Linked DNA regions of Homo sapiens: all the other regions are reported to be linked to region 1. Evidence: microRNA targets listed by miRTarBase, many of them from high-throughput screens and not tested one by one. Region 1 holds a microRNA gene; each other region holds the end of a gene's coding sequence.
Evidence for each region. Region 1 holds the annotated microRNA hsa-miR-4662b (AAAGAUGGACAAUUGGCUAAAU, at 2,864-2,885, opposite strand). A microRNA usually pairs through its seed, bases 2 to 8, with sites in the 3' UTR of a target mRNA and lowers its output. Matches are read on the target gene's strand: a 7mer-m8 pairs with bases 2 to 8, a 7mer-A1 pairs with bases 2 to 7 and ends in A, and an 8mer does both.

Region 1 (4,327 bases):
CATCAAAACCAGAAAATTAACATTGGTGCAATCCACAGAGTTTATTCAGATTTCACAGGTTTTACATGCACTTATTCTATGTGTGTGTGTGCCCATCTGTGTGTATAGTTATATGAAGTTTTATCACGTGTATGTGATTCATGTAACCATTACCGTAATCAAGATAGAGAACTGTTTCATCACAACAAGCCTCCCTCATTCTACCTCTTATAGACTTATCTCCTCTCCTTCCTTATCCCTAGCCCTGGAAACCACTGATCAATTATTCTCTATCTCTATAATATTGTCATTTCAAGAATACTATAAAAATTCAAAAGGTTACAATATGTAACTTTTGAGATTGGCTTTTTTCACCCAGTGTAATTCTCTTGAGATTCATCCATGTTGGCTGTATTAAGAGTTTATTCCTGTTTATTGCTGCATAGTATTCCATGGTATGGATGTTTAACCATTCAACCATTGAAGGACATTTGGGTTGTTTCTAGGTTTTAGATATTTCCAATAAAGCTTCTATGAACACTCATGTACAGGTTTTCGTGTGAACTTAAGTTTTCATTTCTCTGAGATAAATGTACAAATGTGCAAATGGTAAGTGCATGCTTAGTTTTATAAGAAACTGGCAAGCTATTTTCCAGGGTGATGCTACCATTTGACATTTCCATCAGCAGTGTGTAAGTGATCCAGTTTCTTTACATCCTCACTAGCATTTGGTGTTATTGCTTTTTTTAATTTTAGCCATTCTAATAGTTACACCATAACAACTCATTGTAGTTTTAATTTGAATTTTTCTAATGGCTAATGGTGTTGAACATATTTTCATATGCTTATTTGCCATCTGTACATTTTCTTCTATGAGCCATTTATTTGTGGTTTTTGGCCCATTTTGTAATTAGATTGTTTTGTCTTCTACTGTTATGTTTTGAGAGTTCTTTATATAGTCTAGATACAAGTCTGTTAGATGAATATGTGGTTTGCCAATATTTTCTCCCAGTCTCTGGTTTATTTTTTCATTCTGTTTTTTTTTTTTTTTTTTTTTTGAGATGGAGTTTCGCTCTTGTTGCCCAGGCTAGAGTGCAATGGCGCATCTTGGCTCACCGCAACCTCCACCTCCTGGGTTCAGGCAATTCTCCTGCCTCAGCCTCCCGAGTAGCTGGGATTACAGGCATCTGCCACCAAGCCTGTCTAATTTTTTGTATTTTCGTAGAGACGGGGTTTCTCCATGTTGGTCAGGCTGGTCTCGAACTCCCGACCTCTCGTGATCCTCCCAAAATGCTGGGATTACAGGTGTGAGCCACTGTGCCCAGCCTTTTCATTCTCTTAATAGGGTGTTTTTCAGAGCAAACATTTTTAATTTTGATGAAGTATCAAGATGCCTCAATTTTTTCTTTTATAAATTGTGCTTTTGATTTTAAGTCTAAGACCTCCTTAACTTAGCTCTAAGTGCTAAAGATTTTCTCCCATATTTTTCTCTAAAAGTGTTGAAGTTTTATGTTTACATCTAAGTCTGTGATCTATGTTAATTTTTGTATAAAGTTTTAAAGTATGAGACTTAAGTTAAAACAAGAGATTTTGTTTTGTTTTGTTTTTTGCTCCAACACCACTTGTTGAAAAGAGTTTCCTTCCTTCATTCACTCGCTTTTGCACTTTTGGTATTTTTGGTAAAAAATCAGTTGAGTATATTTTTGTGGGTCTATTTCTGAGTCCTCTATTCTGTTTCATTGATTTGTGGGTTTATCTCTCCACCAATATCATACTACCTTGGCAACTGTAGCTATATAGTGAGACTTAACACAAGGTAGAGTGCTTCCTCCTACTTTTTAAAATAGTTATCACAGCTATTTTATTTTCAAAATTTTTGCCTCCCATACAAATTTTAGAATAAGCTTGGCTTTGTCTACAAAATCTTTTTGGGATTTTGATAAGAATTGTGTTAAACTATTGATAATTTGGGAAGAATTGACATCTCCACTATGATGAGTCTTCCAGTCTATGAACATGGTATTTCTCCTCATTTATGTAGGTCTTTATTTTTTCATCAGCATTTTGTAATTTTCATCAGAGACATAGTATATGTATTTATACCTAAGTATTTTATTTTCTTTGAAGTGATTGTAAATGGTATTGTTTTTAATTTCAGTTTCCCCATGTTCATTGACAGGATAAACAAATGCATTTGATTTTTGAGTGTTGATCATGTATTCTGTGACCTTACTTAATTCACTTATTAATTCTAGGAGGTTTATTTTAGTTTATGTTTTTTAGATTCTTTAGGATTGTATAAATAGACAATCATGTTATCTGCAAATAGAGATGATTTTATTTCTTTCTTTTCAATCTGTATGTCTTGTATTTCTTTTTCTTGCTATATTGCACTGGCTAGAACTTCTACTACCCTGTTGAAGAAGATGTTGAAAGCAGACATCTTTGTCTTATTCCCAATCTCAGTGGGAAGACGTTCAGTTGGCACCATTAAGTATGATGTTAGATGTTTTTTTTTTTTTGTAAATGCTTTTTCACAAATTGAGATATTTTTCGTCTGTTCCTACTTCAGTGAGTTTTTTTGAAAAATAGGGATCATACTTTGCTTTCACAGGATTGCTGTGATGATTCTAGGTGAAACATAAGTAAAAGTTTATGGCTGTTGTGGGCCCTCAAATAAGGTTTAGAAAAACAACCTTTGGACAACATTAAGGCGAGTCATTACAACTTAAAGTGAAACCTTCTGTAGACAAATGATCTCACATCTTCACTTCTAGGTATCTCTTCTGAAGAAACATTGGCTCATGTCCCAGAGATTTATATACAAGGAAGTTTACTGCAACCATGGCTGCAACAGAAAAAGCCATTGTGTACCACAGTGTCTATTTAGCCAATTGTCCATCTTTAGCTATTCTGAATGCCTAAAGATAGACAATTGGCTAAATAGAAATTGTGGTACATCCATACAATGGAATACCATGAAGCCATCGACAAAACATCAAGATTCTATTGACCAACATGGAAAGAGTGCCATGGATGGGCACGGTGGCTCACACCTGTAATCCCAGCACTTTGGGAGGCCAAGATGGTTATATCACCTGAGGTCAGGAGTTTGAGACTAGCCTGGCCAACATGGCGAAACCCTGTCTCTACTAAAAATACAAAAATTAGGTGGGCATGGAGGCAGGCACCTGTAATCCCAGCTACTCAGGAGTCTGAGGCAGGAGAATCGCTTGAATCTGGGAGGTGGAGGTTGCAGTGAGCTGAGATTGTGCCATTGCACTCCAGCCTGGGCAACAAGAGCAAAATCTCAAAAAGAAAAAAAAAAGAGAGAGAAAAAGTGCCAAGACACAAGGTTAGGTGAACAAAGGAAGTCTCAAAACAGAACAATTTGATTTTATATTTATAAATGGCATAATATATAAATATGGCTTATAAATTTATACTTATATCTACATACATATAGTATATAAGTATGTATTTTTAAAACCCAGTCATATATTGTAAACACATTCCTAAGTGCATAGAAAAAGGCCTAGAAGGACTTGACACTCATTTGTTAACATCGGACATCCTTCGGGAAATGAATGGGATTGGGTAGAGTACAAAGGGGTACAAAAGATCACTTTAAAAAACTTTATAAATATATTTGGTCTTTAAAACATTTTTTTACAATGATAATGTTTATATTTACTATCTGTTTACCTAAATAAGACTCAGGTAGTATGGGGCAGGGAGTAGCAATTTCTAGTGGTAAAATTTCAGACAATTGTTTTCCATAGTCACTGGGACCCAGAATTCCTGAGCTCTCTTTGTTCTATTGCTGGCTGCAATATTAGTTGTATGATTTTGGACAAGTCACTTTCTCTCTCTGGGCCTCAGATTCCTCTTGTAATGAGGAGATTAAACTAGAGTACCCATGGATAAGCATTTTTATTATTCACATTTAAGCATCTGACCTCTCTTTGCAAATAGGTTTTTGTATGTGGAACCTTTATGTATACAACAGAAGAAAGCATGTCAACAACCCAACTATTTGTACCCCGGATCCATTTCAGCACTAACGTTTTCTGACTGGAGTTGAAGGCAGTGAACCCAAAGCCACCCGTCAGAACTATACTGCCCCTCAGCTGAGTGAAAAATAACTGGGTGATTTCAAGTGACCCACAGAAGCTCAGGAGTGACAGTTGCTCTCATAAAATGTGTTCCCTGAGCATTAAGCCCTGGTGTTGGCAGGGTCTGATAGCTCAGGGACTGTTTGAGCTCCAAGGAGATCATTACTGTTTCTAGAGAGTTCTATGAGGACCCTGGGTCTTTGGAAGAACTATCCATTTGTGGTTTTTAGGAG
Region 2 (4,163 bases), not on the chromosome of region 1:
GACAAATCACTTCAAGAAATCATTAAACTATATACACTTTAATGCCTAATACATGTAGTGTTTAAAAAACAGATTTACCTAGCTTTCTCTGTTCGAGCCCACCTTGTTCTCTACAGCTTGCTACCTTTAGTCTGAGAGTTGGAAAAATAAATCTAGTGAGCTTGTGCCATGACATGGCAAACTCCCTGGCCACAGGACACAAAATTATCTTTCACATTTCTTTTTTTTTTTCCCTTGGCCATCCAATGAGTCTTACCTAGTCCTTCCATATATGTCTCTGGGACTCGTCCTTTCTTCTCCATTCTTGTCATATCACTCACATCTAGAGGTTTATTGAATTTAGTTTATTGCAATATCTATGTAACTGGTTTCCTAATTTCCATGTCTCTCTACCTCAAATACATCTGGCAGCAATATAAAAGATTAAATTTCTAAAAATAACATTTAATTAAGTAATCTGTTTAAAAACCTTGGCTAGCTCTCTCATGCCTATTGAGTAAACTCCAAATACCATTAGCCTGGTATTCAGCGCCTTCCAAAATCTCAGTCCGAATGTATTTTATTTCTTTTTTCTTTCTTTTTGTTGTTGTTGTTGTTGTTGTTGTTGACAGAATCTCACTCTGCCACCCAGGCTGGAGTGCAATGGCATGATCTAGGCTCACTACAACCTCCACCTCCCGGGTTCAAGCGATTCTTGTGCCTCAGCCTCCCAAGTAGCTGGGATTACAGGTGTGTACCACCATGCCTGGCTAACTTTTTTTTGTATTTTTATTAGAGACAGTGTTTTACCATGTTGGCCAAGCTGGTCTTGAACTCCTGGGCTCAAGTGATCTGCCTGTCTCAGCCTCCCAAAGTGCTGGGATTACAGGCATGAGCCACCACGCCCAGCCTGTATTTTCTAGATTTATCATCTACCACCTCTTGGACAAAACTGGTCTCCTTACTATCCCCTGAACCTCCACAAATTCTTTTTGCACCTTTGCTTATGGTGTTCCTCCTGCCTAGAATACCCCTCTCCATTTTTGGAAGCCTGTTCAAAGCTTAACTTTTCTTCACTAAACCCTCCCTGAACATTTACAATTCACAGTGATCTCTTTCTTTGAATGTGATTTGAGTTATGAATGCTGTCGTTCATTTGGCAATACTCACATATGACTTCTCCTGTCTTACATTGTTAATTCTTGTACTATTTAATTTTGTGCGTCTTGCTTTCTCAACTAGACTGCGAGATCCTTGGCAATAGGGGCCATTTATTACATTAAAAAATCTACCCACAGTGCATATTGCTGTGCTAGGGGCTTTGACAGGGACTAGTTACAGACAGAAGAGTGCTGGAGTCTCCTCAAGATGCCAAACTCTCAGAATGCAGCATTTACTAGAGGTGATGATTCCTCACACATACATATCAAATATAATCACTTTAAAGGTGAAACTAACTCTACAGGTTACTCTAAGATATTAAGGAATTACAAACTGCCTTGGAAATACTTGTAAAAGTCCCCTATTAAAATACAAAATTAACTTTTAATAAATAAGTTCATGCTCTCCTGAAAGCTTAAAAATGACATATAAAGAAAAAATGGGCTGGACGCGGTGGCTCACGCCTGTAATCCCAGTACTTTGGGAGGCTGAGGCGGGTGGATCACAAGGTCAGGAGTTCGAGACCAGCCTGAGCAGCATGGTGAAACCCCGTCTCTACTAAAAATACAAAAATTAGCTGGGCGTGGTGGCACCTGCCTGTAATCCCAGCTACTCAGGAGGTTGAGGCAGGAGAATCATTTGAACCCGGGAGATGGAGGTTGCAGTGAGCCAAGATGGCGCCACTGCACTCCAGCCTGGGTGACAGAGCAAGACTTTGTCTCAAAAAAGAAAAAATGGTACCCCCCAAAAAATAAAAATAAAAATGGTCAGGCCAGGAGCATAATCTCTAGGATTTACTTGATCACAAAGTGCTCAAAAAGCCAAGGCCCCGTGCAATCCATTTATATTTTAGTGACTGTTTTTTCATCTGTAAAAGAGGCTAAACCACATAAGGAAAATAAGTGTAGGCTGGGCAAAGTGGCTCATGCCTGTAATCCCAGCACTTTTGGCAGATCACGATGTCAGGAGATCGAGACCATCCTGGCTAACACAGTGAAACCCCGTCTCTACTAAAAAAAAAATACAAAAAATTAGCCGGGCGTGGTGGCAGGCGCCTGTAGTCTCAACTACTCGGGAGGCTGAGGCAGGAGAATGGCGTGAACCAGGGAGGCAGAGGTTGCAGTGAGCCAAGATCGCGCCATTGTACGCCAGCCTGGGCGACAGAACGAGACTCCATCTCAAAAAAAAAAAAAAAAGGAAGTCTAGAACCCGAGTTCCCATAGAAGGCAGCCAAAATGATTTGGATAATTCAAGCTAAAAAATGTCATTCACATCTTGGTTTCTCCTGAATTATTTAGGCAATCTGAGATTTCTTCATAGACAGAAATATAATCCCAAGCTAGTTTGCCAAATCTGTGGTGGTTTTCTACATTGACCCAAGACATGCTGCAACCATTAAGTTCTAATCAAAATGTTTATTAATCTTGTAACTGAAGAAAATAATCATTACAAAACTCCTACCTCAGATTGCTGTAAAAGCTTTGAAGTTCTGTGGGATGTACTGACTGCAATCTCAGAAATGTTTTATCTTTGTAGATGGCCCCAGATGATAAAGCTTTGGCAACAAATGCTGCTTGCCCTGTATAAATCCCTTAGATGTCTTGTATGTAGAAGGGAGACCTACTAGATTACCTAGCGTCATCAGATCATAACATATATATATGGTATCTCAAGCTTACTATTATATATATGTTATATATACAGAGTCTCACTGTCGCCCAGACTGGAGTGCAGTGGCGTGATCTCAGCTCACTGCAACCTCCACCTCCTGGGTTCAAGCGATTCTCCTGCCTCAACCTCCTCAGTAGCTGGGATTACAGGCATGCACCACCATGACCAGCTAATTTTTGTATTTTTAGTAGAGATGGGGTTTCACCATGTTGGTCAGGCTGGTCTTGAACTCCTGACCTCATGATCCGCCTGCCTCAGCCTCCCAAAGTGTTGGGATTACAGGCATGAGCCACCGTGTCCAGCCTAAGCTTCGTATATTTGTAAATATATCCTTTCCTTTTGAAATTTTCTGTGAAATAATGCTTTTGGTTCCTTTAGCCCAGCCTTGACTACTAATTGGCAAGGATTCAAATGATCTCCCCAATTTTAAATATCCGTGTATTACGGAAATGTTATCAATTTTCTTCTCCTCCTACCAAGGATTAGTATGATAATGAATTGAGCTTCTTGTCAAGAAAAATGCTAAGTTCAAAGTATTATTTCTTTCACTTCTAATTACAAATAAGTTTTACCTTTTATTGTATTCCATTATACAATTTTACATAGTACCATTATTTTAAGCAATAATTAAGCAAATTGAACTACTGTTTTTGAGCTCTACTTTTCAGCATATAGATTTACCTAAAAAAGTACAAACCAAGCACAGTGGTGCAATTTTCCAGGCACTTTCAAGTTGCTTATTTACAAATATGTAAGCACCCTGTTGGAACACATGAAAATTTTGGTGTCGAGAAGAAACACTCCATGTATATCAAATCTTTAAATTTTAACATTTGCACAGCTCCAAATATTCCTGAGAAAGGTCAGTCTCATTGTCACGTACATCTGCATTTCCTCACACTTCAGCGTATCTTGGGGAACCATAACCTCGGTCACTTGATGTACCACTAATTGCACAAAATACATGTAATGTGTTGCTCATCCAGGGAGAATGCATTGTGTCTTCTTGTAATATCTAAAACAGAAGAAATCAGCATGATTATCATGAAGCAAAATAGCCACTGCCAAAAAAAGAATGTGTATATGAAATTGCAGGCATATTTCAATTTATCACTGACAGTTATTTAAAAAGACAGAAAGCAGAGAGAGCAAAGAATAACATTACCGACTTAAGTCTTCAAAGCTGTATTACAAAGGCAGCATATCAAAAAAGCAGAAAAGATCTAGTTACTCATTAAGAAAAACAAAGACTGTAAAATGCAAAATTCAATAAAAAGCGAGAGGTAACACAATCTTTAAAATATTTTTTAACAGATGGTCATAACAAGAGCTCTAAATGGTAGACTCTGACA
Region 3 (4,163 bases), not on the chromosome of region 1:
GCCACATCATTTGGCATCAGAGATGAAAAGGATCTAGGGCTGGTTGTTCTCAGAACCAAGAAGCTTTCAAAACCAGCTTGTGGTAGCCCTTCTTGAGAGCAGCTCAGTCTTCTCATTGGTTCACTCTGACCAATCCCAGGATGCATAGGGACCCAGGCAAAGCAGGCCCTAGTAAGTCCCTTTTTTTTTTTTTGAAAGACAGAGGCTGGGCGCCATGGCTCATGCCTGTAATCCCAGCACTTTGGGAGGCCAAGATGGACGGATCACCTAAGGTCAGGAGTTCGAGACCAGCCTGGCCAACATGGCCAAACCTGGTCTCTACTAAAGATACAAAAATTAGCCGGGGTGGCACGGTGCAGGGCGGTATGGGGACGCCATGGCAGAGCTGCAGCAGCTGTGGGTGCAGGAGGTGGTGGACTCCATGGTGAAGAGTCTGGAGAGAGAGAACATCTGGAAGATGCAGGGTCTCATGTTCCGGTGCAGCACCAGCTGTTGTGAGGACAGCCAGGCCTCCATGCAGTAGGTGCACCAGTACATCAAAGCACTGCCATGTGCCTCTGGCTCAAGCCCGGGCTTTGCTCACCAGTGAGTTGGAGAAGTTCCGGCACCACCTGGCCCGGTGCGCCATGCATTGCAACAACAAAGCCAAAGATTCAATGGATACTGGGAGTAAGGAGCTTCAGGTGAAGCAGCAGCTGGACGGTTGTGTGACCAAGTGTGTGGATGACCACACGCACCTCATCCCAACTATGGCCAAGAAGATGAAGGAGGCTCTCTTATCCATTGGGAAATAACAGTCTTTGCCAGTGGCCACTGGGGCTGAGGGCAAGAATATATTTTTTATAAGGAATTGGGAATTTTAGTCTTTTAAGCAAAGTTTATGAAGAAATGAAGGATGGCCACAAGTGTAAGACATATGTCACTTGCCTCTGGACACTGGTTCTTTTATGTTTCAGTCCTAAAAAATGAAATGGAAAAAAGTGGTGCTAAATTGGGTCAGAGATATTACAGGAGAGTTTTAGAGCTTATATATCCTATGGCCAGTGCTTGTCCTGCCAGTAAGGATCTCCCCTGTAACAAGCCAGAGCCCTCCAAGGCACTAAACTCTTCTTATTACACAGGTACCAACAGGCTGGCAGGTTAGAGTTGGTGGAGTTTGAGGAGAGATATTTTCTCTTTGTTGCCAACATCCTGTTTACCAGAAGTGTCACCACACCATTTTCCGTAAGCTGTGAAACAAAATCCATGAGGTCACCCGCTTAGAAGGGCAAAAAAGTTTTCTGGGTCTTTGTTTTCTTGGTTTTGTGTAATTTATACAAGGCGATACAAATTGATTTTAAGATGTGGAATTGGGAGGGAGACTAGTTTGGATAAGAACTTTGAAAGTTTCCTTGAGGATCCCCATTTCTGGTCATCAAGATGTAGATGTAGATTTCTTAAAATTATTACATGCTGCATCTTTCAGCCTGGAGACCATGCAAAAACATGAGAGGTGATGACATACTAATTATGGGAAGCATAATTACTGGCTGATGGGCCGAGGCTGTGTGTAGCAAAATGACAGGACAATCTTGCAGTAACACTTTCCCGGTGAAGAGAAGGGGGTTTTGATTGTGATATATACTAGTATCTAGAAATGAACAGTAAAAGAAGAGCAGTTGGCTACTTGATTATAACAGAGTTATGAAGTACTGGATTTGGAAAAACCTGGTTTTTATAGAACGGATGGAATGAAAGCCTAAACCTAGCACTGCCTACTTAGCCCCCTGAATTAACAAAGCACAATTGAGACAAACCCTGGCAACAGGAAATCCAAGGAAGAAAAAGTAAGCAACTTGGGCTAGGATGAGCTGACTCCCTTATAGCAAAGGAGAGGCAGACCCCAGTACCAAAAACCATTTTTGCCTGGGGCTTTCGCAACTTGCAGTGTTCCTGCCCCGGCATGGCACGTTATTGTTTTGATAGCAACCTCATTGTATTTTCATCAACTTACTACTTGAAATGATAATATAGCCTGTCCATTTGCTGCTTCCAGGCTGTGTTATATTTTCCCGGTGGTTTGCTTTTAAAAATAAATAAAGTTTAATTTTCTCCCCTCCCCCTCCACAAAAAAATTAGCCGGGCATGGTGGTGCCTGCTTGTAATCCCAGCTACTTGGGAGGCTGAAGGAGGAGAATCACTTGAACCTGGGAGGTGGAGGTTGCAGTGAGCCAAGATCATGCTACTGCACTCCAGCCTGGGCCACAGAGCAAGACTCTGTCTCAAAAAAAAAAGAGACAGACTCAGCCGGGCGTGGTGGCTCATGCCTGTAATCCCAGCACTTTGGGAGGCCGAGTGTGCAGACCACTTGAGCTCAGGAGCTCGACACCAACCTGGACAACATAGTGAAACCCCATCTCTACAAAAATATATATAAATTAGCTGGGCGTGGTGGCATGCACCTGTAGTTCTAGCTACTTGGGAGGCTGAGGTGGAAGGACTGCTTGAGTCCAGGAGGTCAAGGCTGCAATGAGCTGAGATTGTGCCACTGCTCTCCAGCCTGGGCAACAGAGTGAGACTCTGCCTCAAAAAAAAAAAAAAAAAAAAAAAAAAGAAGAGTTCTCACTCTGTCACCCAAGCTGGAATGCAATGGTGCAATCATAGCTCACTGTAGCCTTAGACTCCTGGGCTCAAGTGATCCTCCCGCCTCAGCCTCTCGAGTAGATGGGATTATAGGTGTGAGCCACTGCCAAGTCCCTTATCACTGGCACTTGATTTCCTACTGGGCTAGAACCTTAAGCTGTTTGGTGAAAGAAGGGCACAGAAGTCACACAAAGAGAGCAACAGATGCTTGCACAGCAGCTCACACTGCCCTGGGACAGCTCCAGTAAAGAGCAGTCCTGTGTTCAGGTCCTACCTTCTAGAGCAGGATCTAACACAGGACACCAGTTGAATAGCTTATGCTCTAGATAAGTACAGTTCTTGGTATATAGCTAGTGTTCCAGAAATATTAGTTGCATGAATGAATGACAGGTTTAGGCTGTAAGACCAGCATCAGACCATGGAGTGCCTGGATACAACTACATTTCTATGGCCAATTAAAAAAATAATCCTGGGATTGGAGTAGTAGAGCTAAGCCTAGGGACTTGAAAGTTAGTCCAGAGGATCCCAACAGCTGGACACAAACTCAGGAAGACTCAAGAGCCATACAACAGCAATGCAGCAACCAATAATCACCGTTATTATTAAGAGCAGTTTCTAGTACAGAGCGCCTCAGGGCACTTACAATCCCCACAGAGGCCAGCTACCCAACATCAGAGTCTGACCAGCTGGGTGGTCCTGCCCTGCATCCGAGAGGGTGTCGGGACACTCATCCAGATGGCTCTGAGACAGCAGCAGAGCTGACAAGGAGGCCCCACAAGTGAGATTCCTTTGGCTTCAAGGTCGCAAGTCCTGTCCTTGGGCCTCCTGGCCTGCTGAGCCTCCCACCGGCTTTACCCTCAGAGATTGCTGCAGAAGCCTGTGTGCTGGAATGGGCTGCCACATTTCTAGGAAGGAACCCGGGGGCACATGTAGCCTGGTTATTCAATGTTATCATAGACGTGAATCACATCCTCGTGGTTGCTGAGAGCCTGAATGAGATGTGCGGCCTGTTCCAGGTCGGGCTCAGCCAGCTGCACCTTTGAGTTGGGGATGAACTCTAGTGCACAGGACACAGAACACAGGCCCAGGGAGTCCAGCTTCTTCCTCACTTGGTGCAGTGAAGAGGCATCACAAATAAACTAGGGATAAAGGAAAGTCAGGAGGTGAGGAGCCAGGAGGTAATGAGACAAAGCCACACAGGACCTTGCAAAGTCCTGAATGTCAGTACTGGAATGGATCACTGGGTTTGAGCTCTTCACTGGCAGGGACATCGTTTTCAATGTTTTGACTCTTTCTTTCTCATAGTCCTCACTAGAGTCGGTCCTATTCAGTATTCACTTAATAAATGTTTGTACAATATGTGAACTGTCTCACCTATACCCTGGGGCACATGAAGGAAGAAACCAAGAGGCATGCATAAGGCATCTATCAGGGTCCTCCCGGAAGCCCACCAAACACCCATGTTTTCATGCTTACTTTAAAAACGTTCCTTTCTTCTTCATCTTCAGTTTCCTTGACATCCTCAGCTCCTGCTTCGATTG
Region 4 (4,163 bases), not on the chromosome of region 1:
CCTGCTCTCTGGGTCTAGCCTCTCACCACCCACCCCTCTGTCTCTCTTCCTTCCTCAGGTCTTCTCTCCGCATCACCATCCTCCTCACCCTCCCAGTCTCCCCCCAGGGACCCCCCTGGATTCCCCATGGCTCCTCCCAATTTCTTCCTTCCTTCCCCATCTCCACCCGCCTTCCTGCCCTTTGCTGGGGTCCTCCGAGGCCCTGGCCGGCCGGTGCCCCCCTCCCCAGCTCCAGGAGGCAGCTGAGGGGGATGGGGGGGCAGATCTTGGACTCATGAGGAGGGGCCCCCCTGCCCTGTGGGGTCAACCCTTCTGGAAACTGTGAAGATCTCACTCTGCCCCCCCCCCCCATCTTCGGGACCAGGATTTGCACAGAAGCACATGCACCTACCCATACACCCCCTCTTCTGAGCACAGATGTTCCCCCATCTCGCTCCCTCCCAGGACTCTGACCCCAGCATTCTCAGGCACCAGTCCCTGTCCGGAATGCCACCCACATCTTCCATTTCCATGTCCCCTCCCAGAGCTGGTGGACCCAGGGAACAGCCACTCCCCTCCACTCTCTACCAGATAACTGAGGAGGGGAGAGGTGGGCCGTAACGGGCACGGATCACGATGTAAATTATTAAGCATTTTGGTTGGATTTCTTTTGTAATAAACTATTTTTGTACCATATCCCTTGGGTGCATGGGCCTCTTTCATGAGATGGACCTGGCGGAAGTGCCTTCGTGTGTGTGCACACCCGTGCACTGAATCCAGTTGACTCCCAGAGTGATGTTGTGAGTCTCAGACAGACAATCTCCTGTGTGTCACTCTGGGACTTCTGGTGTGTTTGGTTGTGAATGTTGCCATCATTGTCACTGTACCATTGTTTCTAAGGAGGACGTGGTGTGTGATATCTTTTTTTTTTTTTTTTCAAGACAGAGTCTTGCTCTGTCGCCCAAGCTGGAGTGCAGTGGCACGATCTCGGCTCACTGCAACCTCCGCCTCCCCGGTTCAAGCGATTCTCCTGCCTCAGCCTCCCGAGTAGCTGGGATTACAGGTGTGCACCACCACACCTGGCTAATTTTTGTAATTTTAGTAGAGACGGGGTTTCACCATGTTGGTCAGGCTGGTCTTGAACTCCTGACCTCATGATCCTCCTGTGTCGGCCTCCCAAAGTGCTGGGATTACAGGCATGAGCCACTGCACCTGGCCGGTGTGTGATATCTTTCCAGGGCACCCTGTTGGATTCCGTAGTGACCCTGGGCATGTGTGTTTCTGTAGTGTGGGGGTCCTGGTGATAACCCACAGCTGACTTCAGCCCCAATCGTCTCTGGCTGTCCGAGTGCGTGGTGCTTGGGAGTGTTCCTAACATTGAGATCTGGGGTGATGCTGTGATTGTTGCCCTGTGACTGCCTCACATGGCGTGAGACAGTTTTACTTAGTGGTTCCATGGGGCCCCTCTAATGGACCACATCTGTGGTTTTGTTGTTGTTTTTTTGGGGGGGGATGGAGTCTCACTCTGTCACCCAGGCTGGAGTGCAATGGCGTGATCTCGGCTCACTGCAACCTCCGCCTCCTGGGTTCAAGAGATTCTCCTGCCCCAGCCTCCAGAGTAGCTGGGATTACAGGCACCCACCACCATGCCTGGCTAATTTTTGTATTTTTAGTAGAGAGGGGGTTTTGCCACATTGGCCAGGCTGGTCTCAAACTCCTGACCTCAGGCGATCTGCCTGCTTTGGCCTCCCAAAGTGCTGGGATTACAAGCGTGAGTCACCGCGCCCAGCCACACATCTGTGCTTTGACTCTGGGGTATGCCTCTGTGTGTCAGTCGGGGTTTGTAATGGTTTCCTGTTGCCACTATAACAAATCACAAATTCAGTGGCTTGAAATGATGCTAACTTTTTTTTTTTTTTTTTTAAAACAGAGTTTCACTCTGTCACCCAGGCTGGAGTGCAGTGGCACAATCTCAGCTCACTACAACCTCCACTTCCCTGGTTCAAGCCATTCTCCTACCTCAGCCTCCCAAGTAGCTGGGACTACAGGCGTGCACCACCACACCCGGTTAATTTTTTGTATTTTTACTAGTCACAGGGTTTTGACATGTTGGCCAGACTGATCTGGAACTCCTGACCTCAAGTGATCCACCCACCTCAGCCTCCCAAAGTGCTGGGATTACAAAAGGTGTGAGCCACCGTGCCAGCCAAACAATACTAATTTATTCTCTTACAGTTCTGGGCATAAGAAGTCCAAAATCGGCCGGGCGCGGTGGCTCACGCCTGTAATCCCAGCACTTTGGGAGGCCGAGGCAGGCGGATCACGAGGTCAGGAGATCGAGACCATCCTGGCTAACCCGGTGAAACCCAGTCTCTACTAAAAATACAAAAAATTAGCTGGGCATGGTGGCGGGCACCTGTAGTCCCAGCTACTCGGGAGGCTGAGGCAGGGGAATGGTGTGAACCCGGGAGGCAGAGCTTGCAGAGAGCCGAGATCGCACCACTGCACTCCAACCTGGGTGACAGAGTGAGACTCCGTCTCAAAAAAAAAAAAAAAAAAAAAGAAGTCCAAAATTGAGGCCAAGCCTGGTGGCTCACACCTGTAATCCCAGCACTTTGGGAGGCTGAGGCAGGAGAATCCCCTGAGACCAGAAGTTTGAGACCAGCCCGAGCAGTATAGTGAGACCCTGTCTGTACAAAAAAAAAAAAAAAAAAAAAATTAGCTGGGCATGGTGGCAGGCACCTGTAGTCCCAGCTACTCGGAAGACTGAGGTGGGAGGATTGCTTGAGTCTGTGAGTTCGAGGCTGCAGTGAGCTATGATCGCACCACAGCACTCCAGCCTGGGCAACAGGTGAGGCCCTGCCTCAAAAAAATAAATAAAAGAACCATGGTGTCAGCATCTGCTTCTTGTGGTGAAGGCTTCAGGCTGCTTCTACTCATGGCAGAAGGCCGAGGGAACCACACGTGTGTGGGGATCAAGTGGCAGGAGGGGAAGCGAGAGAGAGACAGAGAGAGAGAAGTGCCAGCCTCCCTTTAACACCCATCTCTCATGGGCGTCAATGGGGAGAACTCATTCACCCGCCAGGGAGGACATTAATCTATTCATGAGGGACCTGCCCCCATGGCCCAAACACACCTCACATCAGGCCCACCTCCAACCTTGGGAATCAAAGTTCTTTTTTTTTTTTTGAGACAGAGTCTCACTCTGTCGCCCAGGCTGCAGTGCAGAGGCCCAATCTCGGCTCACTGCAGCCTTTGCCTCCAAGGTTCAAGCGATTCTCCAGCCTCAGCCTCCCAAGTAGCTGGAATTACAAGCATGCACCACCATGCCCAATTAATTTTTGTATTTTTAGTAGAGACGGGGTTTCACCCTGTTGGCCAGGCTGGTCTTGAACTCCTGACCTCAAGTGATCCACCCGCCTCGGCCTCCCAAAGTGCTGGGATTACAGGTGTGAGCCACCGTGCCAGGCCCAAATTTCTTCATTTTTTTGGACACAGAGTCTCACTCTATCACCCAGGCTGGGGTGCAGCAGGAGATCCTAGCTCACTGCAACCTCGACCTGGGTTCAAGTGAGGGGATCAGATTTCAACATGAGGTTTTGAAGGAAAAAATATTCAAACCATAGCACTGAGTGTTTTTTGTTTTTTATGGGGTTTTTTGGTTTGTTTGTTTGTTTAATCTGTGGGGGCTTCTCTGGGTCGTCATGTGAATTGCTGATAGTGAACATTTAATCCCCATCACTCTGTAATGTAGTTGCATCTGTGGGGCCAGCTGCCTTAACAACTTCCTGGATGGCATCACTGGGGTCTGTGAAGGGCTGTGTGTGTGCACACAAACACTCATGCACACGCACTTCTGGATGGCCTGTGTGAGCACTGACTGGGTGACCTGTGTGTGCCTGGCCCGCCTGACTGGGACGTCCATGCGTCTTTCTGTTTGCAACTATGTTTCAGTGTTTCTGACCCAGACCCTGTGCTCTGGTATCTCTGAAGCTGCCAGGCTTGAAGGGCATGTTAATGTCCTGTTGCTGGCCAGGCACGATGGCTCATGCCTGTAATCCCAGCACTTTGGGAGGCCGAGGCGGGCAGATCACTTGAGGTCAGGAGTTTGAGACCAGCCTGGCCAACATGGTGAAATCCCGTCTCTGCTAAAAATACAAAAATTAGCCAGGTGTGGTGGTGTG

Region 2: the mRNA of DOCK11 is a reported target of hsa-miR-4662b. The part of its 3' UTR that is shown has no 7-base or 8-base seed match.
Region 3: miRTarBase lists TACO1 as a target of hsa-miR-4662b. The part of its 3' UTR that is shown has no 7-base or 8-base seed match.
Region 4: the mRNA of BCL3 is a reported target of hsa-miR-4662b. Seed matches in the 3' UTR shown: 7mer-m8 at 349-355.

What each region holds. Positions count from the first base shown.
Region 1 is chr8:124,819,125-124,823,451 of GRCh38, forward strand. It overlaps MIR4662B (microRNA 4662b), which reads right to left and starts at 2,934; the gene lies at 2,854-2,934. It overlaps MIR4662A (microRNA 4662a), which reads left to right and starts at 2,861; the gene lies at 2,861-2,927.
Region 2 is chrX:118,685,351-118,689,513 of GRCh38, reverse strand. It overlaps DOCK11 (dedicator of cytokinesis 11), which reads right to left. Exons shown (of 53, transcript NM_144658.4): 53 at 3,367-3,826. The coding sequence ends at 3,707. Among named protein-coding and RNA genes, the nearest start is that of IL13RA1, 40 kb to the left of the region's middle.
Region 3 is chr17:63,607,400-63,611,562 of GRCh38, reverse strand. TACO1 (translational activator of cytochrome c oxidase I) reads right to left here. Exons shown (of 5, transcript NM_016360.4): 4 at 4,099-4,163; 5 at 3,198-3,761. The coding sequence ends at 3,561. It also overlaps the pseudogene FAM136DP. Among named protein-coding and RNA genes, the nearest start is that of TACO1, 8.6 kb to the right of the region's middle. RefSeq lists enhancers at 1-456, 457-957.
Region 4 is chr19:44,759,370-44,763,532 of GRCh38, forward strand. BCL3 (BCL3 transcription coactivator) reads left to right here. Exons shown (of 9, transcript NM_005178.5): 9 at 59-675. The coding sequence ends at 246. Among named protein-coding and RNA genes, the nearest start is that of MIR8085, 2.8 kb to the left of the region's middle.